4 separate regions of the Homo sapiens genome follow, and regions 2, 3 and 4 are each linked to region 1. Evidence: fine-mapped expression QTL. A gene starts in region 1. Each other region holds a variant in brackets. All regions are shown on one strand. Distances are between the middles of the regions. Region 1 holds the start of NR3C1 (nuclear receptor subfamily 3 group C member 1). Region 2 holds the start of LOC124901098 (a long non-coding RNA gene). Region 3 overlaps NR3C1 (nuclear receptor subfamily 3 group C member 1). Region 4 overlaps NR3C1 (nuclear receptor subfamily 3 group C member 1).

Evidence for each region. PIP is the estimated chance that this variant, and not a neighbour inherited with it, causes the effect.
Region 2: its variant is the best candidate, but not a certain one, in a credible set for the expression of NR3C1 in whole blood (TOPMed, PIP 0.60).
Region 3: its variant is the best candidate, but not a certain one, in a credible set for the expression of NR3C1 in whole blood (INTERVAL, PIP 0.89).
Region 4: its variant is the best candidate, but not a certain one, in a credible set for the expression of NR3C1 in whole blood (INTERVAL, PIP 0.80).

What each region holds. Positions count from the first base shown.
Region 1 is chr5:143,400,992-143,408,919 of GRCh38, forward strand. It overlaps NR3C1 (nuclear receptor subfamily 3 group C member 1), which reads right to left and starts at 2,695. Exons shown (of 9, transcript NM_000176.3): 1 at 2,220-2,695. LOC128966704 reads right to left here and starts at 7,570. Exons shown (of 2, transcript XM_054328421.1): 1 at 4,343-7,570; 2 at 3,675-3,925. The coding sequence starts at 4,650. The coding sequence ends at 3,895. RefSeq lists silencers at 1,691-1,790, 2,001-2,080, 2,321-3,590 and enhancers at 3,596-4,363, 3,641-3,710, 3,751-3,890, 4,291-4,530, 4,364-5,130 and 1 more.
Region 2 is chr5:143,120,679-143,128,606 of GRCh38, forward strand. ARHGAP26 (Rho GTPase activating protein 26) reads left to right here. Exons shown (of 23, transcript NM_001135608.3): 18 at 310-469. LOC124901098 (a long non-coding RNA gene) reads right to left here and starts at 4,894. Exons shown (of 2, transcript XR_007058980.1): 1 at 2,292-4,894; 2 at 1,849-1,969. The variant T/A (reference allele first, on the strand shown) is at 4,157.
Region 3 is chr5:143,275,597-143,283,524 of GRCh38, forward strand. NR3C1 (nuclear receptor subfamily 3 group C member 1) reads right to left here. Exons shown (of 9, transcript NM_000176.3): 8 at 6,972-7,129; 9 at 2,338-6,445. The coding sequence ends at 6,293. Among named protein-coding and RNA genes, the nearest start is that of ARHGAP26-IT1, 87 kb to the left of the region's middle. The variant C/CTT (reference allele first, on the strand shown) is at 5,523.
Region 4 is chr5:143,372,916-143,377,915 of GRCh38, forward strand. The region is part of intron 2 of NR3C1 (nuclear receptor subfamily 3 group C member 1); the gene reads right to left. Among named protein-coding and RNA genes, the nearest start is that of NR3C1, 28 kb to the right of the region's middle. The variant T/C (reference allele first, on the strand shown) is at 2,210.

The DNA of each region.
Region 1 (7,928 bases):
AGTAGTTTCTATCTTCCAGAATAAAAAGCCATGTCCCCTGCTCCCATTCAGCATGCCACATTTAAAAGTACAATGCAATCCATTTGCACAGCTGAGGGCAAAAGTGTATCGAACTAAGCTTGGCTATTCATCCTGCCGCTCACTGAACGTGTAGCTTTGTTAATCACAGACATTATAATTCATTACATCTGATTATTCTGAAGGTTCAAGTTGATGTCAAAGTATTTAATTTCAAAAAAAGGAAGTGTGATCATTAAAATTCCTACCTCTTTTCAATCACGGCTGTTTGCTTTTCTGAGAACCAATACATATAACATTTGATAAATACTATGCTAGAATTCTCAATCCCTAATTACTTCCAAATTTCCCTCCTACCAGCTAGTCACACATCCAAACCTTTGAGTACAACCAACTGGTGAACCATGCACGTTTTCTTTGAAAAATAAACAATGCTGATCTGCTTATCTTCCGACAGGCTGGGAAAAGGCTTTTTAACCCATACTTCTGACTGGATGTGCCTACCTCCAAATTTTGGATATATGAAATGAGATACACTTTATATAGGCCAACTAAAATTTAGATTTTAAAGAGCAGAAGAGAAGGTGTAGTAGTTTCTCACTACGTTGTTAGCTTACATAACTTAAATATAGCTGACCCTTATCATAACTCACAAAAACATCTAGATTAAGCTACATTTGTTTACATTGCTTGAGATCCTCAATATGAAATGCTATTACATCTCTAAGTTCTTTCCTTTCCAAACAAATATCGAAGTACTGAAAAATGGAAAAACACAGAACCGTAAAATCACATTCATATAAATTCAGGTACAACTGTATCCAGTAAAATGTTCAAAATAATTTTCTCTGCCTTCACCTATCCAAACCTTCACCTATCCCAATTCTCAGCCTATTCTCAAGAGAGTAAGACTGTTAGTATATCGTTAATCAGGGTGTTTTAAGAGATGGGCTAAGACGGAGAAGCGCATTTGGGACACTATAGTCAAATCCCGTCCAATAAAAGGTAACTTTTCCTATGCGATGACGTTAGGCAGCATAAATGTCACTGGCCCTCACTGAAAAGTGAATATGAAGGTAGAGAGAGGGGTGTGGACTTGCCACTACAAATCTTGAGGGTAAACTGCTTATCTCCCCACCTCTCTGCCCCGTTTATCTGAGGCGATAACGATCTCTAAACACGAGGTATCGAATGGAGCCCAATGAATTTCCATGCCGCTTTTTTGACAGCTGCCTTCAAACCCGAAACCAAAACAATATTTCCTAAAACGAAAACGCTCCCTCAAGCGACATTATCCCCCAGTTTAAGTTGCAAATAACCCAGCCACATTAATTGGCCCTAATGAACCATGCCAGAGGGTCTTAAGTGGTATTACAAGGTTGCAATTATCAAGTCTGCAACCCCAAACGTCAAACTAGCACTTGTAAAAATCGCAGCACAAAACCATTACGGTTACAGGGGGTCTTTTTCTAAAAGGGGCCACTTAGAAACCTCAGGCGCGAATTAACAACAAACGCTAAAGAGCAAGCCCTTGCGGGGCGGGGGTGGAGAAGAGAAAAAAGTGCGAGGTTAAAAGAGAAGTACGTCCAGACCTGTTGAGTTCTCTCTCCGACACGCCCACTTCTAACAGATAACGCCGGCCCCGGCCGCAGTCTCCAAGTTGCGGGCTGTCAGCCCCCCGCGTGTGCACCCTCACGCGCCCCGCACGCCCTCCTCAAGCCAGGCGCCGCCGGGGCCTCCCCGGAGCCCGGGCTCGCGCTCGGGCGCGCCGGGGTGGCGTGCAAATATTCGGGCGAGTAAAATTCAGACGCGGCTTAGCGTTCACCACGAAAACGGGTGTCGGGCGACCCCCTTGGAGGGAAAGGGGACACTAGGGGGAGAAAAGAGGCCAGGATTCCCGCGAGGAATGAGAGGCTCGAAGCCCCCGGCAGTTCGACAGGGCTCCGCTCGCCGTCCGAGGTCAGGTTCCTCCCCCTCGGCCCGGCCAGGGGACGCCTGCGGAGGGAGAGGAAGAGGCCAGCGCTGTCACCCGCGCGCTGCCCTTTCGTCACCGTCGCCCGGCCCTTGCCAGCCCCCCACCCCCACTCCCCGAGGCTAATAAAAGTTTGTAGGCTCCCGCGGCGGCCCCCGAGTTGTCTCCGGTCCCAGCGGCACCTCGGGGGAGCGAGCGCGCCCCGGCCCCCTCCCGCCTCGCTTCTTACCTCTGGCAGAGGAGCCGCTCGCCCGCCACCGTCCGCAGTTCCCGCCGCAGCCGAGATAAACAACTTAGCTTGTGAACGCAGAAGGAGCAGGAGGGAAATATATTTTTTTTTTCTAAAAAAAGGAAGTAAACAGCCGCCCCTTTCTCCATGGGTGGGGGGAGAGCCCCTATTTAAGAAAGTCTCCCATTGCCCAGCTGACAAGCCAGCCCTCCGCCCCGCGCCGGGCTCCGCGGGTCGAGGTTCCGGGCGCGCGTGCCCCGTCCCGGTCCCAGCTGCTTCGGCCGCTCCGGCTGCGGCGTCTCCTTCCACCCACAGAATCCGTCCCCGACGGGCAGGCGGTGACTCGGGCTCCCGTCACAGACACGAGCTCGCAAAATGGAGGAGGCGGCGGCGGAGGGAAGAGAGCGCGGACACGCGAAAGGGCAGCCCGGCCTGGGCGAGCGAGCGGGACCGAGCGGGGAGCGGGTGGAGGCGGCGCCACGGCGCGCACACACTCGCACACACGCGCTCCCACTCCACCCCCGGCCGCTCCCCGCCCGAGGGGCCGCGCGGCGGCCGCGGGGAACGATGCAACCTGTTGGTGACGCTTGGCAACTGCAGGGGCGCCCGCGGTCCCTGCCCCCACGCCCTCCGCGCGGGCCCCGCCACCCCGGCCCCGACGGCGCCTGCACGCCCGCGTCCCCTGGCGTGGCCGCCCCGCCCGGTGCGCCGCGCTTCGCCCCCCGCCCCCAACTCCCCAGGAAAAAGGGTGGCGGCGGCAGCGGCGGGGGCCGACCTGGTCTCTCTGGGGCGGCGTTAAGAGGGCCACCGAGTTTCTCCAGTTTCTTTTCTCGCTACCTCCTTCCCGCCCCCGCCCAGCTCCGCGGCTCCAGACCCACTCGGGAGCTCGCTCTGCCCCTTGGCGGCAAGCGCCGCCAGTGCCCCTGCGGGTGACAGCGGGCGGGCCACAAGAGCCGGGGCGCCTCCCGCGGCTGAGCTGCGTGAGTGGCCCGCGCCGCCGCCGCCGGGCCGAGTTGCGTGAAGTGTGTCACTTCGAAAGGGGCTACGGGGTTGCACGGAAACGGTGCCGCAGCGTCTCGGCCGCGCTCGGGGCCGGGCGGCCTGACACGCCCTCTGGGGAGGCTTCAGGGAAGGGACGGGATAGCGGGGGTCGGCGCATACGTACTTTGGGCCCGGGGGGAGTCGCGTGCCGGCAGGTCCCCCACCACCGCATCATCTGGGCGGCCGGGTCTTCAGCTGCCGCCGCCGCGCTCTCGCACTGGGAGAGAAGTTGCAAAGCAGAACCCACCCTCCCCCGCGCCCCGACCGTCCCCCACCCTCTTCCCCGAGTCTGCGAGGCGGCGGCGGCGGCAGAAGGAGGCGCCGCCTGCCAAGTTCAACCCCCACCCCTCCCGCCCAATGTGCTCACACTCGAAGGAAGTTGCACGCCAAATGCAAAACCTCCAGCGAGCTGGATTTCTTTGCACTTTTTTTTTATTATTATGATTAAGGAAAGCAGGGGGCGGCAGGCTTAAAAGCAAGTTGCAGGCGAAATAGTAAGTTGCTGGCGAAATATAGCCCCCCTTCCGAAACTCCTGACCTCTTCTTCCACCCCGGCCAGGGCCCGCGTCCAAGTTCCCGGTGCAGGCCCCACCCCCGAATCTTGACATTTGCTGCCCTCGACTCTGTGCGTTGCTCACCCTATCACGTTCATAGGACCCCTGCCCCTACAAATAAAACAAAATACAGGCAGCTTTAAAATGCCAGCGTTCAACTCCCTACAGATGTTCCTGTTAGGAGCTTCCCCCTCAGTCCAAGGGGAAGGGAACTCGTGGTCCGTCCTGAGAAAGGAGAGGGCCGTGGGGCGAGGGGTGCCCGTGCGGGAAGCCCCCGCCCCAGCTCCCTTCCCCAGCTCGCCGCGTCGGGAAGGCTTGGACGATGCCGGGACCGAGCCTCCTACCTTGTGCGGCACAGATTATGATTTTTGTGACTCTGGGAAAGGTTGTGCTGTGTGGGTTTAGGGTTTGGGGAGGTAACTTTTGCGCCCCCACAGGTGACATCGCTTGCCAGCTCCTGACACGGGCGGGGGCTGCCGCAGCTCCACCTAATCCTGCTCGGGCGCTCGGCCACAGCCACTCTCTCACCTCCCGCCGCGCTCAGACTGACGGCGGCTCCCCCTGCTCTGACATCTTGAAGACGATTGGGGAAGCGCGTCCCGGAAGCCGCCCGCCGCCATCTTGGTAGGGTACAGTGTCGCCAGCCCGTCCCCGCGGCCACCATCTTGGCAAAGGTTCGCGATCGCGGGTAGCCTAAGCCGTCCTTCCTTGGTTCTCAAGGGTAAACGGTTCCCTGTGCATTGTCTGATGTGAAAGGAAAGAAGTAGGCTTTCAGCAAGCCTCTTGTCCGGAGACGATCTACGGGGGCCGCCTCCAGAGGATTCTGGAGCCGCCATCTTGGCAAAGGAAGAGATACTCGCCACCTCGGAAAAGAAGAGGGAACCAACCGTATGCCAACGTAGAACCCTCAGCCAGAAGAATTTTTATGAAGGGCGCTGAGCAACTCCATGTTAACAAAACCCCCTTCTGGACCCAGAAGGCAGACTCCGCTTCTCCTGTCCCTTGGCACAAGTCAACTAGAAGGAGGCCCTTGCTTTGGATGCTCATCTGTGAGGCTATGAGAACACTGCTTGACCTAGTTGCCCGTTTTTCCAATTTCTGAGCCTCAAGCACTAGAATGAGATGTCTTTCGTTAATTTGGCCCCTAAACTACCAACAGTTTCATGGGAAACAAATCAAGACCCAACCCTACAATAATGTTTTACACGTTTTAAAAGTGAGTTAAATAGCCCATGCTAATAATTATCCTTGTACACTGCTTAAAATGATTAAGAATTCTATTTATATATACATGTATGTATACATATGTATACACATATATATTATATACATATATATGTATATAATTAAGGGGACAATACAGTTGTCTAATAGAACACATCTCCCCATGCCATTAGCCTGTCTCACTGCTGAATCTCTGCTCTAAGAATCCACCTCATCGCTCATACATGCTCAAATCCTTAGTGGTAGGTACTCTGCTTAAATAATTTATGATTTCACAAGAGTTCCCAATTATTCTCCCTTCATTTTTTTTTCTCTGCAGATCTTAATGGGGAAGAATACGTAGTTTTAAATATGCCATTGAAAACGTTTTTAATTGAGCAAAAAAAAAAAAAAACTTATCCTAATTTCTCTCTTCAGCAATCTAAATGTGCCTGTTAATTTTTTAATTTGATAGCAAAAAAATTCTCATTCTTTAGTCTTTCACATTCATTTGGAAGCATGCATGAACTATAAGTTAACCCCTCTTTTTCAGAGTAATACAAATAGTTATGATTTGTGGCTAACATTTATTGATCCCCACTCTTCTGCTGCCCACTTTTGCTGACAACAATTAAATGAGATAGGTATTGTTATTCGATTTTTCAATATGAGGACAACAGGCTTACAGAGGTTGATGCTTGTCTAAGTTCACATGGCTCCTATGCATTAAGAGAGGAATTAGACAATATTAAAGTGGTTTTCCTCACTGATCTCAATCATTAACATGAAGTAGTATATCAATTCTGATAGACTACTTACAATATGTGCTTACGGAATTTAATTGAAGAGATGAACTCCAGTGTGCCAGAAAGGACGTGAGATTTAGCATTATAATAATAACACAATTCTAACGAAAGTCAACATTTATTGCGCATCTGCTGTCTGACAGACACTATTGAAAGTGTTTTATGCACAGTATCCTAAGTCTTTAGGTATGGCATTTACTAATCTGTAACCCTGGGAACTTATAATTACTACAAGAAATAGGATGAATCCCTATCTGAGTGGGAAGGTATTTGATTGTCTTAGAAGCAGAGGTGGAAATGAAGGTGATGTATTCAGACTCAGTCAAGGCAAGGACCTGATCTATCTTGTCATAGCTTTATGTCCCACTCCTGGAACACAGCCCACTACATAGCAGGCACCCAACAAATACATTACAGGGTTATAATAACATTGAGTCAACTAGTTAACTAGATGTAAAATCACTTTTACTGGGTTATTGTTGTGGCCAAATGGGTTAATAAAAAGTGTACAGATAACCCTCAAGATCCTCATTTTTATTGTTTTGTGTTTAAACATCTGAGTGCTCCCCCCACTTTTTTTTAAAATAAACTAGATTAGATTCTTGATTGTATGTTCTTATAGTATTCTGCATACTTTGTTAGCACATTACAATGATAGTTCATTATTTGTGCCCTCATTTGTTATTTCTCTGTATCACCCACCAGAACATAAGTTCTGCAAAGGCAGGGACTGTGTCTGTTTGTTCACCCCTGTATCACTAGTGCATAGTTGGTGCTCAGTGGGTGTTGGTTAAATGAATGAATGAAGATAATATATGGTCTTAGAGACTATGTCCTAAGGCCAATAAAACCTTAAGCCTGACTAATAACCAAACCACTTGATACATTGATTTCAGAAACTGATATATTACCCAAGTGAGTTCTCCCATTCTCTTCATGTTTTGTCATCTCCATTCCCACTAAAATAATCCAAGCTGTACTGCCAGATTACCCCTCCAAAACATCAACTAAATCAGGCTGTGCTCCTTCTCAAGTATATACAATAACTCTTGATTCTAGTGCTACACAGATCCCAACTCCCAGTATGGTATTTAAGATCATCACCTTTACCTACCCCTTTGTAGAAAGTGAAGCCTTCTAGTGGATGTGATTGAACTGGAGTTTAATTTAAAAATTAGTTAAAAGAAGGAAATAATTTTAAGAAAGATAACTTGCAAACTTTAAACTTTTGAAACTTTTGAAACCTAAAACCTGTGATTGAACATTTATTTTCTAATCTTTTGATGAAGGTCTAAAGCTTTTATGAGCCCACTGACTGGAGTTCCATGTCTTCTTTAGTGTGTGTATAAACTATACCTGTAATGCATTGATATAGTGTAGCAGTTAAAAGCCAGACTATAAAGGCCAAATACAGTCTCCACCACTAAAAGGAATGTAACCTTGGGCAGGCTAACTCTCTGTGCCTTTTTCCATCATCTGTAAAATGGGGATAATAATAGTACTGATTTATAAAGATTAAACCAGTTTGATATATGTGAAGTGCTTAGACGAATTCCTGGGTCATAGGAAGTATTTGCTCATCATTAGCAATTATTATTCATCTGTAGAATTACTATTTTCCCCCTTTTTTTTAAACAAAGTAGAACAAGAAATTAAAGATACACATTCAGTATCCATGACCTGAAATGCTTAATACTGAAAGTGTTTTAGATTTTGGATTTTTTTTTTTCTGATTTTGGAATATTTGCATTATAATGAGATATCTCGGCCATGGGACCCAAGTCTAAATAGGAAATTCATTTTTTGTTTCATATACACCTTATAGCCTGAAGATAATTTTATACAATATTTAAAATAATTTGGGGCATGAAGCAAAGTTTGTGGTAAGTACTTCCATGTAGGATTTTTCATTTGTGGTATCATAACAATGCTCAAAAAGTTTTGGATTTTGGAGCACTTCAAAATTCAGATTTTCAAGTTAGGGATGTTCAATGTGTACTTTTAGAATAATTTTCGTGCAGATTTCTAAATTTTTATGATTCCTCACTCCTGCCCCCACACCAGTCTTTTAAAATTGTCTTACATCCACCTTACTTGACGCAACT
Region 2 (7,928 bases), 280 kb before region 1:
TTGCAAAACAGGGATTCAGATGTTCAAAGGTTAGTAATTTGGCAGATAGTTGCTTTGGTTGGTTGGTTGTTCTAGGCAAAATGGAAATGATAAAGCGTGTCATATCCTGAAATAGCAAAATAGCCTGGATGCTGAAGATTTCTGAAATGTGGTAGATTTTCTGACTCCTGTGGCATCTGACGATGACCCAAGTTCTGGCTCCTACAGATGAGGAGTCTATAAATAGGAAGATAGGAAGGATACAGGGTGGTTGGTATCTCTGTGTACACGATTTGTCTCATTGGTACCTTTTCTTTTCCTTCCTCCCAGTGTTGCTAACAACCACAAGCAGAATTTGATGACGGTGGCAAACCTTGGTGTGGTGTTTGGACCCACTCTGCTGAGGCCTCAGGAAGAAACAGTAGCAGCCATCATGGACATCAAATTTCAGAACATTGTCATTGAGATCCTAATAGAAAACCACGAAAAGGTAATATGTAATTGATCACTTGCAGTGAAGAATGTACCTGGGGGGAAGCTGCATTGGAATTGACCTTCAGAGTTGGCTCAGATTTGCATTGCTAATCACTCTTACACTGTCATGACGATGAAGTTGCTGGTGGTGGTAGTGATGGTGGTGATGATAATGTAAGGTTGGTGGTAAAGGTGTCAACCGTGGTAGTTACAATGACAACAGCCATGGTTATGGTGGTGGCAGTGGTGGGTAAAATTGATTGAGCATTATGTGCCAGGAACTGTGTTAAATACTTTATATGTATATTGTTATTTTATCCTCACAACAATTCAATGAAGGAAGTACTCTTATGAACCTCATTTTGGAAACATGCTTTGCCCATTTCTTACTTGATTGTTTTCTTATGAATTTATGAGTTTTTTAAATTTTAGGGATATTAAACTTTCTTCATTTGTGTTGCAAATATTTTGACCTATAGTTTGTCTTTCAGTTTTATAAATGGTGTTGTATTTTTTGTACCGTTTGTGTGCGCGTGTCTTTATGGTCTGTCTTTTCTTTTGGGGAATTGGGGTTCCTAGTCTTTCTTTCGAAGGTTTTCCTCATCCCCCAATTTGAAGAATATTAACGCAGAGCTGCCCTTGTAAAACTGGGGAGGGGACATAAAGCTGCAGTCCTCTCACCCACTTCATTGCTCTTATGAGCAAATCCATATGAAGCTTCTCAGAACTTGTGCAGGGTTCCCTAAAGCACCATTTGGCAGCAACAAATCTGGAATCTAATAAAAAATGCTGTTTCTCTTAAATAAAAACTTTGCCTAGAATGGCAAATTAATCATGCACAATAAATCCAGAATCTGACCATGCCTCACCACGTACACTGATAATGTTGTAAGCCACCACTACCTCTTGTCTGACTTTTTACAAGAGCCTCCTAATTTGTTTCTTTCTTGTACCCTTGGCCTGACAATTCTGATACCAGCCACCAGAATGAGATTTTTTTTAATGTTAAGCCAGATGGTATCAGTTTTCTCCTAAGAATTATCCAGTGGCTTCCCATTTCATACATTTGCCCACATAGTCTCTGTCCTTTTACTGTTACTACCTGATCTCGTCTCCTGCATCTCTCCTATAGCCATCTTGTTTCTGCCTTGCTGTTTCTTGGACACCACAGGCACATTCCTACTTCAAGGCCTTCGCAGTTGCTGTTCCCAGTGGTTGGAACACTGTTCTTCCATAAAACCACATGGCATACTTCTCCCTTCCTTCAAGTGTACTAAGTGAAGCCTACCTAGATCTCTCTGTTTAAAATTATAATCCCAACTTCCTGCATTCCCTTTTCCTTTTATTCCACTTAGTCTGTTTTCATATCAAAAGACAAAATCACAACAAGTTTAGTTTAAAGATGTTAATTGACTTTTATTTGCGATTCTAGAATTGGGCAACACCTCATTCTGTAAAATAGAATGAATATTCCAGGAGCTGAGCAGAGGAGGTTGGCTTTATAGACAGAAAAGGGCTAAAGAAGAGAACAAAAAGCAGATTAATTGTTTTGAAGTTACTTTCCTTGTAAAAGTTAAAGCAGAGGGGACTTCCTTCAGTGCTGACTAAAACTGGCCTGTTTGGGGATTTGCCTGTTATCTCTCCCCTCATTTATTGGAAGGTCAGACAAACAACTTATTTTTGGCTTGATGGCATAGAACTTCAGCAGAAGTAACTGCATTTTGATTTGGTCTCTTGAGCCTAGGGCAGGAGCTCAGTCCAAACCAGTGGCCTCCTATCAATTTTATTTAACACATAGGACTTCACAAATTATAGGGCATGTAATAAAATTTACTTACTGATTAGATCCATTGGCTTTCTGACCTCTTCAAGCATGTGTGCTTCAGGAAAGCAGGGACGTTGTGTTTTGTTCCTCAGTAGGCACTAGTACATTGGTTTTGGGTGAATGTGACAGCCAGCCTCCAAAATGGCTCCCAGTGATCCTGTCCACCAGTGTTCATTCCCTTGTGTAGCCCCCTCCACCTCTGAATAGAGCTAGCCTATGTGATCAATAGAATATTGCCAAAGTCATGGTATTTGACTTCTGAGAACAGAACATGTACATTACTCTGGGAAGGTCATCCTTCATATTCATAGGGTTTGTCGTCTTTGTGAGAGCAATTGGAATAAGCCATCTTGACTCCTTTTTCACTGTAGCTTCAGGCCTAGCCTGGTATGAAGTAAGGAGATGCTCCCTCAGTCTTTTTTGGAAGTCTGTGGTGTTCAACTCACAGCAATTCTAAGCATCCGTGGCTGTGCTCTGGCCTCTGGCTTTCTGGAGATAACACTTTGTATAAACTCCCTGCCAATAGAACTTAACTTTAACCATCAAATCCAGAGCAATTTTATGTCCTCAGAAGGATGTTGTCGGAGACTTACTCTTTAAAATCCACAATGTTGGCCAGGCACAGTGGTTCACACCCGTAATCCCAGTGTTTTGGGAGGCTAAGGTGGGAGGATCATTTGAAGCCAAGAGTTTGAAACCAGCCTGGGCAAAATAGCAAGACCCCCATCTCTACAAAAAATAAAAATGAAAAATCAGCTGGATATGGTGGCACATGCCTAAAGCCCTAGCTATGGGAGGCTGAGGTGGGAGGATCACTTGAGCCCAGGAGTTCAAGGTTACAGTGAGCTATGATTGCACCACTGCACTCCAACCTGGGTGACAGTGAGATCCTGCATCTAAAATAAATAAATAAAATGTTTTAGAACATAAAACTTCATAGTATTTAAGGTCTTAGTTAATACTTACCAACCATTTCCTTAGACTTGGCTTTAATTTTCTGTAATAGAAACACACACACACACACACAAACACACAATGTCTAGGGGTGACTCTTCTTCTGTCTAGTCTTAGTGTCAAAAGTTAGACAAAATCCTGAAACCCTATTTGAAGAAATGCTTTCCAGCAGCACCTTTTCATGTGAAACAAGTTTGCTTGAAACAAGCCCTACTACAGGGCTAAAGTATATACCCCCCATAGCGACTAGCACAGTATTCTCTCATGTTGTTAACATCTTATATAAGGTATTTACTTTGTGCTTCGGAATAATCATTAGGAGGGCTCTAGGAATAAATGGAACATAGCACTGAAAAGAAGGTGTGGAAACCTAGGCATCTAGCCATTGGAGCCACTCCATTGACGGAGAGACGAAGAGAGCCATGAGATGTTTTAATTTTCTATTGCTATATAGCAAATCATCTCCAAACCTAGTGACTTAAAATAGCAATTATTTTATTACTCTCAATTCTGTGAGTCAGAAATTTGAGAAGGGCTTATGTGTGCCCCTTGTGGTATCAGCTGGGTTGGTTTGACTGGGACTGGAGGGTCCAAGGTGGCCTCACTCCACACAGCTGGGACTTTGGTACTAGGTGTTGACCAGAATGCCTTGATCCTCTGCCACAAGACCCCCCTCTTTCCAGGTGCTGTCCCATCATTCAGGAGTCCAGCCCCAAGTTCCAAGAGGGCAAACACAGAAGCAGCAAGGGCTGTTAAGGCTTAGGCCTGGAGCAAAGTATCATTTCTGTCACATTCTGTTGGCCAAAGCAAGTCACAAGTCCAGCCAGATTCAAGGCAGGGGGAGCTAGATGCCACCTCTGGGTGGGAGGAGCAGTGTGTGCACACAGGCGTGGGAGGATTGTTGACCGTTATCTCTGCAGGGGA[T/A]CTATGGTACCCAGCAAGTTTGCATTTAGTTCCCTTTAGGAATGACTCTGCTTTCTTATCAGTGGTTTGTGCTGAGCATGGGTAGCAACCCAGTGTTTTTATGGAGAGTGCTTTTCCGCCTCCTCTCTGCATTGCCATTTTTTATTCAACCAGGAGCCTCAGGCATCTGGTGGTAGTGACAATTTCAGCCCTTAAATGCCCTTTGTGAGCCTTGGTATGGAGAACCAACTCATAAATATCTAAAATTGGAAAAACATTTTTAAGATTGGCATTAAAGAAAAAGGAAAGAGAAGTGGGTAATTCAGTTTCTTTAACCTGGTAAAACACCTCTTTTTCAATAGAAGGTAAGAGACCTCTGTGTTCTAACTAGCTAAGGCATACAATCTTTTCTCTCTTTGCCTACCTGTCTTTCTGTTGTTTTCCAAGGGTTAACATTAGACATTCAGCTGAGGGTTAATAGTGAACATGATCTCCTTTATTTTGTCACTCACACCCACACATCCTCAAGATAGTACCTGCAAGTCTAGAAACACCCTCTCCCCCCAACCCAGAGAATCCATCTATATCTTCCTCCTGGGAGCCATAGTGATGTGTTTCACACACAACTTGTGTTTGGTCAGATAGAGTGCACTAACGACATGCTTACCCTGTCACAATGGTCCAGAACTTCTGTCCTCCACCTCTCTCACGGACCTGGGAGGGAAGCAGTGTTTGGCACAATTCTGGGAAATAAATATCCTAGATTAGGAGGAGACAGAGAGGAAAACAGCTAGGAGATATGATATTATGTTTGGGGGCTCATGGAAATTTTTCTTTTTCCATGTTGGTAATACATACTGATTGTTTACTCAATTAAAATTAATGAATCCTTTAAATGAATACAGTCCAGAAATAATAATGATGATAGTAATAGCTAACTTTTACTTACAGCTTATTGTTTACAAGATATTGTGCTAAGCAGCTTTATATCCATCATTCAATTTTCACAGCAACCCTATAAAATTGATATTTTTAGCTCTGTTTTTACAAATTATAAGCCTGAAGTGCAGACACTTTAAGAAGCAGCTGATTAGGAGAGGAACAGGGGTTGAACTTAGTACTACTCTCAGAACCCAAGCTATTAAAATCTACTCTAGTTAATCTCTTTTCAGTGCAGTAAGCATTTTATTGAATATCTACCATTAGCCAAAGATAAGTAAAATAGGTCCTTCATTTTTCAAGGCACTCCCATTTTATCAAGATAGAACTAACTATAATACAGTGTGCTAAATGACCTCCAGTAAGATGAATAAAGTGTTATGGCATCACTGAGGATAAATAATTTAATTCTACTGGCATTGGGCTCTGACAGATCAATGGAAGTTTTCTAGGCAGAGAAAGAGTAGAGATAGGAGGGACAGCCACTCAGAGGAGCAGCATTAATCAAGTTGTTTGTATTAAAATGGCATGGTTGTGAAAGACTGTGGGTTGTTAGCAAGTAGTGGGTGATGATGCCAGAGAGTTGGATTCAGTCCATTTGCTAAGGGTCCTGAAAACTATAGGAAAAGGTTTTGAACTGACTTCTGAAAACTGGGAGCTCTCAGAAGTTTCCAAGTGGAGGCTAAAATGATTATGTCAGCACTTTAGAAAGACATCCTTGGAAGCTGAACCAAATAGTACTTTGATTGCTGACATCAAAATCACACATTAAACAAATAACACAATAGAGTTAACCATACTGTTCTAAACTTGCAGCTCAGATAGTGTCACCTTTGACCTACAGGCTTTGCTTGGAGGTTAGAGAGAGATTCTTAATTTGTTTCTTTTTGCCAGACTTCCTAAGGGGAAATACTAGCTCATAGCATCATTTCCTATTAGTGACTCCTTACCGTGGACTCTCCTTGAATTATATGAGAACTAAAGAGTAGATTTGATGGTGTAGCTCTTTTTAGCTACAGTCAAGTTTCTGAGTTGAAAGCTCAGATGGCAAAGATTTTGGCTCTTCCCACGCTATGTTAAGGTAGCAGTCAGTTATGCAAAATTACCATTTCCGTATGAACAGAATCTTTTCTCCAAACTCACACCTTATCACACTGAGTCTTAAAACATAAAGTAGGCAAAAACTTAAGGTTATGGTTAAAGCAACCAATATTTTTATGCTTCCAGCTAAGATTTTCAAACAAAATATTGAATGCTGTCATGGTCCAAGATCTCAAAGCCCAGAAATTATATTTATTACAAGGTTTTCCCTTTACTTAGTGTTTTAAACGCTTACTTGCTAATGACTATGACAATTTTAGATGTTTAAGAAGGACAACCATATCAAGAAAACAAACTGCTTGCTTTTCATAGTTTTGGTTCAACATGAAATTTCAGGCTACTTAGTGTATGTGTGTGTGTGTCCCCTTGCTATTAAATTCCAACACATAATAGTAGGATTGCACTTGTTCTGTAACAATCCATGCTGTGTCTTGTGGCTGTGGCACTCGAAACGGTTTCTGTACATGGAGCAGGATATGTGTGTGTTCATGTGTTATGTACCACAGGCTTTTGCCAGCATTGCCTCTTTTGATGCCTATTAATGTTTGACAAAATAAGTTATAATAATTCCTTCCCTAGTCCATCAGTTAGCTTTGGAAGAGGTGGGAGTGTTGATCATTGAGCTGTTAATTCTCAGAAATCCCCAAAGATCGGTGCCCCTTTTTAATGTGTTAACTTTCAACCTCAGATGTCAAGGAGAGGAGCTAGCAATCATGGATGACCCCCACTTAACACCTGGACTAAGCACTAAATCCTAAGCAACCTCGCATTCCCAATAAAATGCTAGTGACTTACAATGTAGTTAGCTCAATTTGAGTTGATTTGGGCCACCAATCTGCCTTGATCTGCTTTTACCAAAATATTGGTGACATTGAAATCCATTGGACTAGTTCTGGACTTTGTGCACAAAATGTACATTAGTTAATATAGTTGGTTTGGCAACTGACAGGTGTTTAGAAGTCGCATTTTATTTCTTTGATATTTCAAACAGTTGTTGATATGCAAAATTAATAAAAAGGTATGACTGGATGCTTCACTATGTTGAAATAGTCATTGGTACTCTTGCCTGCTCAGGAAGCTAATCTTGTCCTGTGGTCATGGCTTTTGTAATTTGTTCATCAATTTTTATTTTTAAATTTTTTGTTGACTTCCCTTCCAATGGTTCTTGCTTGTACTCTTTTTGTTCCTCTCCTTGTTAGGGTTCAGAAGCAAGCTAGATTTACTTGGGTGTTGAGCTAGAATGCTTCTGCCACAGGGCTATTTTCTTTTTTTAGTGACAAGTGCTGTGTAAGATACTCTTCATTAATGTGATAAGGTAGGTTGTGCATTTGAACACATATATTCCCCCCAATAAATCCCAGATAAACCAATAATTGTTTGAATTGTGAAGCTCCTTTAATATTACTCAAATAAAGGTGGAGATTGTTGTTGTATTTTAATCTATCCATCTTTGTCAGCAAAGAGAACAGGAAATAGAATCTTTCTGGAGATATGGAAAATCACAGCTCTCCATGGATTACCCAAGCTGTCTATATATACCCTCAGTTACTAATGTAATTGGTTCCTTTTGAGAGATTTTTAATACAACTACCCAAACTACTTTCTAAATTGTTGATCCCTCTGCCAAAATGCTGATATCAACAGGACATAGGACTTCCAACTGTCCTTAAAAAACCTCTGCAGTTACAGCCTCTGAATTTGGCTTCTTAACAGTTACAATACATAAGCCCTGCTAAGACTTGCCTGGCTTCCA
Region 3 (7,928 bases), 130 kb before region 1:
CTTTTGAGTGTCTGATATGGTCTGCACAAACTCTTTTGTTCTGAGACTTACATGTTTGTAACCAAGTGAAGTAAAAATACTTCCCTAACAAAGTACTGCCCCATTTTAACTAGGAAACAGGAAGCCTAAATAAGAGGGAGGATGGGGTTATTTCACCAGAAAGAAAGTGCTATGAAGTTACCAATACTGTTAAGAACGACTTAAGTTAAAAGAGATTAGTTGAAATTCTAAAAAAAAAAAAAAAAAAAAAAAATCACCTTATGTAAAAGCCTCAGTATTTTCAACTTTTTTTCTACACCCAAAGTCTGGCTCTTTACCTGCAAAACTAGGAGCAAATTTTAACTTGCACTATAGTTCTCATTTATAAACAACTTTCTTCCTTGGTTTGACTGTACCCTATATGCTCCATATCACTTGAAGAAATGTTTGATTTTTCTGTGGGCATTAGTGAGACAGGCTCCCTGTTGTATATTAGACAAACCAAAGGGCATTCTGTAATCTGTGGGCAACTAGTATTTTCCACCATCAACCACCCCAGGGTACAGGACACGTTTTTAAGAGAAGGAAATACAATAGTGCCCGCCTTATCTGCGGTTTCACTTTCCGTGGTCTCAGTTACCCTCAGTATAGTACGATTTTTTGAGAGCTCACATTCACATAACTTTTATTACAGTATATTGTTGTAATTGAGTTATTGTTAATCTCTTGCTGCATCTAATTTGTAAATTAACTTTATCATAGGTATGTAATATAGGAAAAAACATGCAGTTCAGTACTATCTATGTTTCAGGCATCCATTGGGAGTCTTGGAACATATCCTCCGTAGATAAGCGGGGACTAATGTATCATTGTTAAATTTCTAAGTCAAAATTGATACGGTAGCAAAAGGGATTAGATTAAATGAGGACATGTCAAAAGGCCAGACACATAATGATCAATATGGGTTCATTCGCCCTAGTTAGCTCATATTAGTAATTTCTCAATAGTGGTTTTTAAAACTATGGATTCTGGAGCTAGCTTTGTGACTGTAGGCAAGTTACTCAATTCTTTAAGCCACAGTTTCCTGATATAAATGCAATGAGGATAATAGCACTGCTTTACAGTAGTACTTTAGAGGGGTACTATGATTAAATGAAATAATATATTGAATTATCATTGTGCGTGGCACATAGTAAGTGCTCAGTAAAGCATTAGTTTAATTTAAAACAGAAAAACATAACCAGTTCCCTGAGAGGCTCATAGGCCAGAGACATGCTCTTTGACATCTGATAGATGAATGGCCTCATTAGAGGCTTTCCATTCAAATTTCAATAACATGGGAGCTAGGGGCTATGAATCAGTGCTTAAATTCTGAGCCTGTTTACTTTCTTACAGAGTTTACTTCCTTATAAAATGGAAACGAGAATAATCTGCCTCATTATTTTCATGTCATTAATTCATTCAGTGAGGCTTGTTAAAAATGTATGTGAAGGTGTTCTACAGAAATGTAAGGTTACTACTTAAAGTGAATGGTACAGCCATAATGTGTATACACATTGATGCCGTATCTGGTATCTCTGCATTATACCTGAAGACACTGGGAAAGGTTTGTTATACACTTTTCCAATCACATACTCTGATTGAGGGTAGCAATAGTATTTTTCTTATTCACATTGTATCTTCAATATTATATAGTAGGCAGGTAGCAAATACTTGGTGCACATGATGATGGATAAGGCAAATTTGGCTTTTAAATCACAATGCTTTTTTTCTTAGTGATGGAGATCTCTTGTGGAAAAAAAGGTACTCAGAGAAGTTTGTTAGGTCATCCAGTTCCTGGATATGGCCTGAACATCAAATGTTTTGGAAAATACCGAATGGATTGTATAGAATAGCTGACTTCCACTACCCTGCCCGACCTTTCTATTCTATGTGCAATACTGCTATGATATTTATATTAAATGTTTATTCCTTTTCTTGAAGAGTTGATTTTAAAATAAGCTAAGAATTTTGACTAGATAACATTAGCTTACATAAAATGTCATCTTTTGTGATAAAGACATACATTTGAAGCAGCCTCAGGAGTGAATTTCTCCTTCCCTTAGTACCCTTTGCAGTAATTGGCACACAACCATTTGAGGCATGGATGGGATAATCTTCAGGTCTTTGGCACCAGGGTTAAGCTTATTTTGAATCTATGCCATATTAGCAGGCGAACATTGCCACACTGACATTTAAATGCCCACCATATTATCTTAAGGTTCCTGAAGCAGGGGTAACTCTACTTTCAGTAAACAAAAATCAGATTGGACAATCGGAACTGTACAAGTTCTACAAAAGCATGTTGGAGTCACATAATGAAAAAGCAGATTTTTTTATTATGATGTTTCTCCATATTTGGCATTGCTGTAAATGGCTAACATTTACTGCCAATTCGGTACAAATGTGTGGTTTGGTAATACCAGAACAGCAAATTTAAATGAAAAAATAAAAGTTAAACATTTCCACACAAGGTTTTACAGTCTGACATTTCACTGCGTAGGTAAAAAGACACTTTTTTTTTAACTACAGATTATTATTCAGCATGAATAAAAAACTACAACTTTTATTTTTAAACAGGAGTCACTGGTTTTAATTTTTACACATTTTAAAATTACTGTGATAAAAAATAATGAAAAAGCTTCTTAATAATGCCATACACAGTATAATATAGATTTGTCCCCATTATATAGCATTTAATATACAAAATAGAATATTGACACACTTGAATCTATATGTAGTTAAGCAAGTTATTTGAGGAGGGTATTTTCATACAGCCTTTCATCAGAAAATAAAATCCTTTCAGACATTTTCTAGAGAGAAGCAAATCCTTTCCTGAAAACCTGGTCACTAATCCTGGGTGGACCAGGTTGCTTGAAAATAGTCTGGGAAATTACGAAACTCCACCCAAAGGGTTTAAAGTGTCCTCCTTACACTTTTATTTCCCTTCTGACACTAAAACCAGACACACACACACAAAAACACATTCACCTACAGCTACAGTCAGGGAGTGACCAGCCAAGATGGAAATCTCACTGAAGGCTACCATGGTTCTGGAAGTTTGACAGATCAATGTATTGTATAACAATATTTTTCATTCCATGGTGATGTAGTTTTCAGGGTTTTTAAAAGGGAACTAAAATTATGAGACTTAGGTGAAACTGGAATTGCTCCCTGCCTCTGAATTCTGAAGGGAGCGTGGCTTTCCTTCATGGCATGCCCAGAGCTCATCCCATGCTAATTATCCAGCACTTCATAGACACAAATCATGTTAGTTTTCCTTTTGGGGTGGCCAAGGTTTCCTCCCATAGTTTTAGGCATTTGGATATATATACCCCAAAAGTGTTATGTCCTAAGTGCCTCAGTTCTGCTTGTATAGTATCCCACAGAATACCTACAAACACTAAAAATACTTTTCAGGATTTGTTGTGAGTAACCAACTCTCACTGAAGTTACTACAAACTTCAACAGTTTGGGTTGGGATGGCCAGATAACACATACATAGGAAATAAATCTGCTTTCAAACAGCACCACCATATAGCACTTAAATCCACAATTAAACATAATTAAGATGACTTTCTTTTCCCCCACGTATCCTAAAAGGGCACAGCTTCTTTTCCCATTTAATGAAAAGCCTCCTATAGTTGTCGATGAGCATCAGTTGACTTATTATTGACAACGAAGTGCACATAATCTTCTTTTTCTCATTGAGTTCTATTTTTTGAGCGCCAAGATTGTTGGGATGAAAATCAGATTAATGTGTGAGATGTGCTTTCTGGTTTTAACCACATAACATTCTATAAAGGAATGATAATCTACGTTTTAGAAGCTCTTTTTGAAACTTAACACTGTCATTGATAAGAATATTCAAGCAGTTTTCTTAGGCACCAAAAATTTATCCAGCCGGGTTACACACCATCTTAAAATATTACATTCCCTTTTAGAGAGCATTCAAAAAGCAAATGATTGTTTTTTTATTAAATAATTTCTCCAAAATACTGAAAATAACAAATAACATTCAAAAAGCATTCAAAGAAAACAAAAACATGTCCTCATTTTATTTGGAAATAAACTCTTGTTGTAGGATAGAAAGGAATTAGTGTATTATTGGCAACCTATGAGATTCTGCACTATTTACATATTGCTGGTACCTCTATGCAAACTATTGCCAAACTTCTGAAGCTTCTGTTGTCATTCAACTGCTGGGGGAGGGCTGTATGTGAAAGTAACCCGCTATTAGATGGTGCCTTTAAGGATGTAAGCACCACCTTCCTGTCTCCTGTTTACATACTTTACATACTTTAGTGCAAGGGGAGATTGAGTAAACTAAACCTGCGCTGACAGACTCACTGTTGGAATGAGAAGGGTGGTCAGAATGGGAGGCAGAGGATAACTTCCTCTGTAATCTCACTGGGTCAGAGCCTCAGCAACCTTCACTGCACACAGGACCAGTCTCCATCTCCCTCTTCCCCTAGAGCAAACTGTTTGGTTTCTGAGACCATCGCTGCCTGTATGAATGCATGTACAAACTATAAATCATATAGGTTATCCATCAGCATTTCTTTGACCCCTACAAAAAATATATAACATGTCATGATAAAACAATCTCATCTAAAAATCATTCTTATTTTACACTATACAAGCTATTTTACAATCATTTTAATAAATTGCATGTAAAGCTGCAGTAGCCCTTCCCTTCCCAGATTAGTGAATACCAATATGATATATATCTGAAACTATAACTAAATATAAAAATATATTAGAAGTTCCATATTTTTAATATTAGATTTTCAGTTTTCTATTACACAAATAATTTGGCCACCTTGAATAGAAATCAAATTTCTTGTGGCTTAGTAAATATGTTAAGTTTTGAGTTTACAGAAAGTTGGTAAGGTGCACACAGAAAGGGCTACTACAGCTTCTATTTTGTTTAAAATAATTTTCAACAGTGAAGAAATTCACAGGACTTGTGTTAAACTCTATGGCACACATTAGGGATGTGTAGTTTTACAAACATGGATGTCTGACATACAGTTCTAAATCACAAAAATCAGTAGCTGAGCTTTCCTGTACCATCAGGAAAGATTAACCAATTGGTGACAGATGGGAATGTGAAAATGGGTGTCTAGCCATTTTTGCCATATTAGAGATTTAGTTTTTGGGTAAAGTTTAGTGAGAGGAATTACTTTGTCTGATTAAAAGTCTCTCAGCTGTGTTACAGCTGGTTATCTGGAATCACAACTTTTAAGAAGTTATACAAACTACTTCAAAAGGTCCTGAAAGACAAATAGTTTACCAGCTTTCTTGCCATATAGCCATTGCAAAAATAGGGCGTTAGGTACAGACAGGGCCTCTTGGTAGTTATTTTTTAAATTAGTCTTTTGCAACCATCATCCACAGTTTACCCAGCAGGTCACTGGACTAGGTGCTCTATACCAGTTAGGACTGTTAATTTGCACAACCTATATAATTCTCCACTGAAGCAGATATATACAAAATATGAG[C/CTT]TTTTTTTTTTTTTTTTTTGACAAGAATACTGGAGATTTGAGTCAATTTTTGTGGTCTTCTGATAGCTAAGTGCCATCAGGTTAGAAGCACCAACCCATTTTCACACAGATGATTGATTAATGTTTAGAGTTTATTTGGGAAAGCTACGAACTAGCTGCCCATCTTAAACAGCTGTACAATAACTTGAATAAAAAATTATGTAAGAAAAAATGAGCAAGCGTAGTTCACTAAATATAAAGGAAATTGTTAAAACCAGACAGTAATAGCTATAAAAGGCACAACTTCCCTTTTCTGATATACACTTGTAAACTTTTTTTCAGGTTTCCATGCATAAATCAAAAATGCTATCCTAACTATACAGGGGGGGGATACACCAACAGAAAGTCTAGAAAATTTCATCCAGCCAACTGTGAAAAAAAGTATGAAGAGAAAGTTCATCACACAGACTTTGGGCACTGGTGGTTTAGGTGCCATCCTTCTTTGACTGTGGAGATTACGTCCACATATTAAGGTTTCTAATTTCTGGGATATATTAACTAATAAATTTCACCATCTACTCTCCCATCACTGAAAAGTGATGACGACTCAACTGCTTCTGTTGCCAAGTCTTGGCCCTCTATAAACCACATGTAGTGCGTATTTAAAACAAAACAACAGATGAAAACAATAAAAAATAAAACAACAAAACCTCTACAGGACAAACTGATAGTTTATACAATAAAAGCTATTAATTCGACTTTCTTTAAGGCAACCATTCTTATTAAGGCAGTCACTTTTGATGAAACAGAAGTTTTTTGATATTTCCATTTGAATATTTTGGTATCTGATTGGTGATGATTTCAGCTAACATCTCGGGGAATTCAATACTCATGGTCTTATCCAAAAATGTTTGGAAGCAATAGTTAAGGAGATTTTCAACCACCTGCAAGAGAAGATATGGTAATGATCAGGCTTCCAAATTGGTCAGTGGGAACATCTCATGTTTGTTGTCCTCTATTTTGAAAAAATTATCTGGCCTAGAATATACCAATCTCACTGGAATTCCCCAGATGAAAAATAAGCACTTCCGTACAAAACACATTTTATATTTCTTTGATTGTATGTAGAATTATATAGAATTATTTCATGAATCACTGTAGTACCATAATATATGAAGGGTGCATTATTCTAATTTAATGGATTAATCATACTTTTTAAAAACAGTATTACTAAATTCTGTAATAACATGGTGATTTTATATACACATGACTAGGTGAAAGGATATTTCATAATTGGCCTTAGGAAAAATGTCTACAAAACTGAAGTTCATAAGTTGAACTCAAGCTATCACCAACATCCACAAACTGGGGGCGGGGGTGGGGGCGCTGCTGGTATATAATTATATTCACTAATCAAAACATACTTTGTCCCAGAAAACTCTTATATTTGGCTTTATGTTTGACACTTACTTCATGCATAGAATCCAAGAGTTTTGTCAGTTGATAAAACCGCTGCCAGTTCTGGCTGGAGTTTCCTTCCCTCTTGACAATGGCTTTTCCTAGCTCTTTGATGTAGGTCATTCTAATTTCATCAAATAGCTCTTGGCTCTTCAGACCGTCCTTAGGAACTAAAAGGTTAAGATGAAGTCAGTTAAAGGATTTTCTTTTTCTTTTCTTTTCTTTTTTTTTTTTTTTTGAGATAGATAGGGTCTCACTGTGTCATCCAGGCTGGAGTGCAGTGGCATAATCATAGCTCACTGGAGCCTTGACCTCCTTGGCTCAAGTGATCCTCCCACCTCAGCCTCCTGAGTAGCTAGGACTGTAGGCACAAGCCACCATGTCTGAGTGGCATAATCATAGCTCACTGGAGCCTTGACCTCCTTGGCTCAAGTGATCCTCCCACCTCAGCCTCCTGAGTAGCTAGGACACAAGCCACTGTGTCTGGCTAAATTTTTTTGTAGAGACAGGATCTCCCTATGTTGCCCAGGCTGGTCTTAAACTCCTGGGCTCAAGCAATCCTCCTGCCTCGGCCTCCCAAAGTGCCAGGATTACAGGTGTGAGCCACCATTCCCAGCCAGATTTCTTGCTATAACTTTTTATACATGCAAGATGGGCATTTAACATTGTTTATGTACTCTTACTGCACTCTAAAATATAAGCATTTTCTTAGGATTATTAATTAAACTACAGCCAAGAGAAAATGCAGGATAACAAAGAATTGGAGGACTTAACCTTGAGTAAATCACTTGATTTCTCATCTATAAAATGGAAGTGGTGATGATACACCTTCTCCTCCTTAGCTCACAAAGCTATTTGGAGGACCAAATGAAATAATACAGTGATTTTTAGTTAACTTTGTCTGCCATTCTGCACTTGAGTTTAATTCTAGTACTGAGATAGATAGAAGGCTTCAACAACAGTGTTTAT
Region 4 (5,000 bases), 30 kb before region 1:
CAATGTTTATTCCAAGTCGTAATCTCAATGTCTGCATTAAAACAAAACAAGCAAAAAATAAAAACAAAAACAAAAAACTGCCTTGACTTCTAAATATTTTTTATAAAAATTATTAAATGGCACCAAGAAAAACTAAACATAAATATTTCACACCCACCATACTGCCACAAATGTAAAAGACTAGCACTAGTAAAAGTTGATGAGAACACTTCTAACGCTCCTTGGAAACAATTTGGCATTACCTAGCAGAAGTTGTAGATGTGTATGCCTTGTGATCTAGTTATTCAATTTCTAGGTATAATTCCCTTGGGGAAAAAAAAACTCTTATAAATGTGTTTCAGGAGACATTTTCACAGCAGCGTTGTTCAAAACAGCAAAACTCTGGAAACAATCCAAGTGTCCACTAACAGGGGAACAGAGAAATGTATGTACTGTATTCATTAAAAGGCTTAACAAAGATCTCTATAAAAAAGCTTCAGCTTACATGGATGAATCTTACAAACAATGTTGAGTTAAAAAAACAAGTTATAAAGACTACATTTATCGGGGGGTGGGGGGCTAGGGGAGGGATAGCATTAGGAGAAATACCCAGTGTAAATGACGAGTTGATGGGTGCAGCAAACCAACATGGCGCATGTATACCTACGTAACAAACCTGCACGTTGTGCACATGTACCCTAGAACTTAAAGTATAATATAAAAAAAAAAGACTACATTTAATGTGATTCCACAACATAAAGTTAAAACATATGAAACTAAATAATGTATTATTTAGGGATATGTAGATAGGTAGTAAAATCATAAAACAAAGCAAAATAATGCAAAAAATACAAAATTTACTAGTATAGTCCTGCAGATGGGAAGGGAGGGGGATGTGACTGGGAAAGGGCATCCAGCGAGCACCAAAGGGAATAGCAATGAGCTGTTCCTTAAGTTGGGTGGTAGGTACAAAGAGGTGTTTATTATTTCTTACACACATATATTTTCCTATGTGTATGAAATAAAAAAAATTTAAAAAATATGATGCCTATGGTATGACACAAAAAATGTGTTAAGATAAGCTCCTAACTTCAGTTACTCTTTCTGTCCTTCAACAACTGTCTTATTTTGCCATTTTATTGATATATAAAGTATTATGCTACTACCTTCATTGTTTTTTCAGGATGATCATTATCCAATATTTATATTCCCCAGATTTTAAATTGTTAAAAATTTGCCTCAGCTCCAGATTGGCTTGGGGAATGTTTTACAGTGGAGCAAATGAAAACAAGGGCTTAAAAACATAGTGAGTAAAGGGCCGGGTGTGGTGGCTCACGCCTGTAATCCCAGCACTTTGGGAGGCCGAGGCGGGTGGATCACGAGGTCAGGAGATCGGGACCATCCTGGCTAACACAGTGAAACCCCGACTCTACTAAAAATACAAAAAATTAGCCGGGCGCGGTGGCAGGCCCTGTAGTCCCAGCTACATGGGAGGCTGAGGCAGGAGAATGGCGTGAACCAGGGAGGCGGAGCTTGCAGTGAGCCAAGATCATGCCACTGCACTCCAGCCTGGGCGACAGAGCGAGACTCTGTCTCAAAAAAAAAAAAAACATAGTGAGTAAAAAAGACATGATCAGGTGGGTGATCATCCAAATTTTCTAGAGAGTTTTTAGTAACTCTGATTCTTGGGTTCTGCCACTATACTTTTAAATGGGGGCGAGGGCAGGGAGGAGAGACAGTATACAGAAATCTATTTTATGAGCCCAAATGACAAGGGCTTCAAAGCACAGTGAGTCAAAAAAAACAGTGAGTCAAAAAGACACTAGATTCAACACTTCACCTTGCCAGGCTCCAGGCTGACATACGCTCAGCAGCTGTACTTGAACACAGCTTCCACAAAATCCTTCGGAGGTCCTCATTCTTTAAATGCCCAGGATACGTTTTTAAGAGAAGTAATTTGTATGCACACATACATGCACTCACATGTATTTTACTTGGGCCTTCATACTCTACTGATTTTCTAGAGACTCCATCTTATAACTTGGGATGATTACCATGAAGTGATGAAAACCACAAATCTCATCAGTAAAGGGATGCTGGCATGCAGGCAGACACTAGATTCAACACATCACCTTGCCAGACTCTAGGCAGACATCAGGTCAGCAGCTATATTTGAACACAGCTTCTCCAAAATCCTTCCTGGGACCTCACTCTTTCGGCTGAGAAAGTC[T/C]AGTCATGCCACCTATTTTTAAATGGAAGTTTTCGGGAATTTTATGCAGAACAAATTACTGAAAGCTACTCATAGAGATGACATAAAACTTCTAAAAGAAAAATGTAAAAAAACCATGATTTAATGCTTCTGAAAATACTTAAGACAATTTCAAAACCTTTCCTAAGATTTAAACCTAAAAAAAAATCTGAAATAGCCAAGGGGAAAATATATGTACACTCGTACAAAGATACACACACAAAGATACATACACAGATACACACTGCAACACTATAGTAGCTACAAAAGAGTCAAAATTCTTTTAATAGGGGCCTAGTTAAATATATTATGGTATACCCATATGGCTATTAGAAAGAATGAGGTAGATTTGTTTGGACACGGAAAGATGTCTGTGATACATTTTTAAGAGACATAATTCGTATGTACGCATATCACACACATTCATGCTGCTCACATCTATTTTACAAATTAGATTGTTACTAAAAATTTTTAATACAAATTATGCACTTTTATTTACAAGTAAGTTGTCCACTTCCAGAAAGTATAAAAAATATGAAAAGTAACCAAAAGATTAGTAACCATGCTAACAGCAGAGAGCCACTTGACAATTTCTGTAAGAAATCTACTTCCCTGAAGACTGTTTACACTACTGGAAAAATTGATCAAAGAGGAACATAAGGGTTAATGTATAAAGTAACTTTTTTAAAAACTAGGGGAAAATCTTTATTTCAAAATAATCATGTTACATTCTGAACAGTATCTGGATGAGTATTTGGGAGAATACAAAACACAGGACAGGGTCTGGCATTTCAAAAATTTTCATGAACCACTTCTATTTAAACTAATATGCTAACAGGCATAATGCTCTACATTATATTTTCATGAATTCTCAATGTTATTTAGCTTTCAAGGGAGGCTCCCTGAAATTAGATCTATGCCAATGAGAATTTTTCTAAAGCAAAATAAGGAAAATTTTTACCCATCAGAAAGCTGAAAGATGTGGAGAAAAAAAAAAAGTTGGCATACACCTTGCATAATCACAATAAGCCAAAAAAGTTTGTATTTCACACAAGGGTAGTGGGAGAAATACATTGATGAGATGATACAATGGAAGGAGACTGGACCATAGCTTTTTGCTGTCTCACAAATGCAGTTGGAACCAAAGATTGTTACAGCGGGAAAGAACTGTGGATAAATTCTCATGTGAGGACACAGACACCTAAGCAGGGCTAGGACATTCAGAGCACCTCTTTACTTCTTGCACATGATTCTTTCCATGACACCTAGTGCCCTTCTCCATCTAGAGCTACCTCTATATGTCCACGTTCCTTCTCTCTAAGCTCATGATAGACCTCAGGAGAAAGTCAGGTAGGCCTGCTGCTTTTGGCTTTATTATAATGTAACTAGTACATGGACTATTTGGCTATTGTGGGATTCTCCTCATGTTATCAGGGTTCCAGCTTGCATAATCACCTCCTTGGCAACAGAATTTATTGGCATATTTGTTGTCCTTCTTAGTGCAGTGGTTCTAAATGTAGGTGATCATCCAAAATTTTTAGGGACTTTCAAAAACTCAGACTCTTGGGTTCTGACCCTGTAACTCTTAAATGGGGGTAAGAGCAGGGAGGGAAGATGATGTACAGAAATCCGTATTTTTCTTACTGCATTCCAGGTGTAGCTGTGTACCACTAGTTTTTAATACTACTTTTGACTGATTCACCATCTGTGACTTAAGGGTATCAGGGTTTGGATAAGGTGCGGTGGAGGACTGGAGATTTAGAATGAATGATGGAGGAGGGAGGAAAAACAAGGCAGCTACTGCTCTATGGGAGAGACAGATAGGACTGGTTTCCTGTGTATGTGAAGTAGGTGCTGTGATCTCGGTTACACTGGGAAGGCTCTTTTGTCTCAAAGTATCTCTCATCAGCTTTTTATTAATGCCTGAAATTCCATCCTTATGATTTCATTCCTTCAAGTTATGTCATTTGTTAAATAGAAATACCCCTTACTCCTCAGTATTCCACTGTAACCTTTCCCTAATGAAGCATAAATTCATTCACTTCTTTTTAACAATCCACTAAAACAAAGCAGGTTTAGGAGGGCACTGTATTCCTTGATTTGGCAGACAGGAAGGGGATGCCATTCCCCTCCCCCCACACAAAAAAAGGCCATGACTCAATATGATGGCTTTTGCAACTTGCCTCAGGCTAGCCTTAGGGCATTACCTATGGAGCTGCTGCATGCCAGGATGATACTTGACCCAGAGGAGATGTGAATTTGCATAAGGAAGAATCATCTGATGATGCTCTGGGCTATACCTTCGCCCACACTAGCTCTACCATTCTCTGACCTCCTGGTATATTCTTCAGCACCTGCTACAGTTAATTGTTTCTTAATTATTTCATGTGTCTGCATCATGTCTCTCTAGCCAGATACAGGCTCCTTTGAGGTCAGAAAAAACACATGATTTATCTTTCCTCCCTATGAGCACGCAGTGCAGCGCTGAAAAGGTACAAGGTCCTTAGTAAGACCTTCACTGATACACCCTATCAGCAGGCAATATAGGGAGAAACATTTTTATGGCTATCTCTTTATGATCCTCTCATTTCTGAACACTGAACTCGACCTGCCTCTTAAGTTTCTCTTCTCTCCAAGTAACTGTCTTTCCCAAATTAAGAGTCTTTCTTTACTAGTCCATTTTTGTAGGTTTTGCAAAAATGTATTGATATGAAATTAGCATTAATCATTTGGGAAAATATCCTTGGATCCCAAATATGTCTGAGGGAGCTGA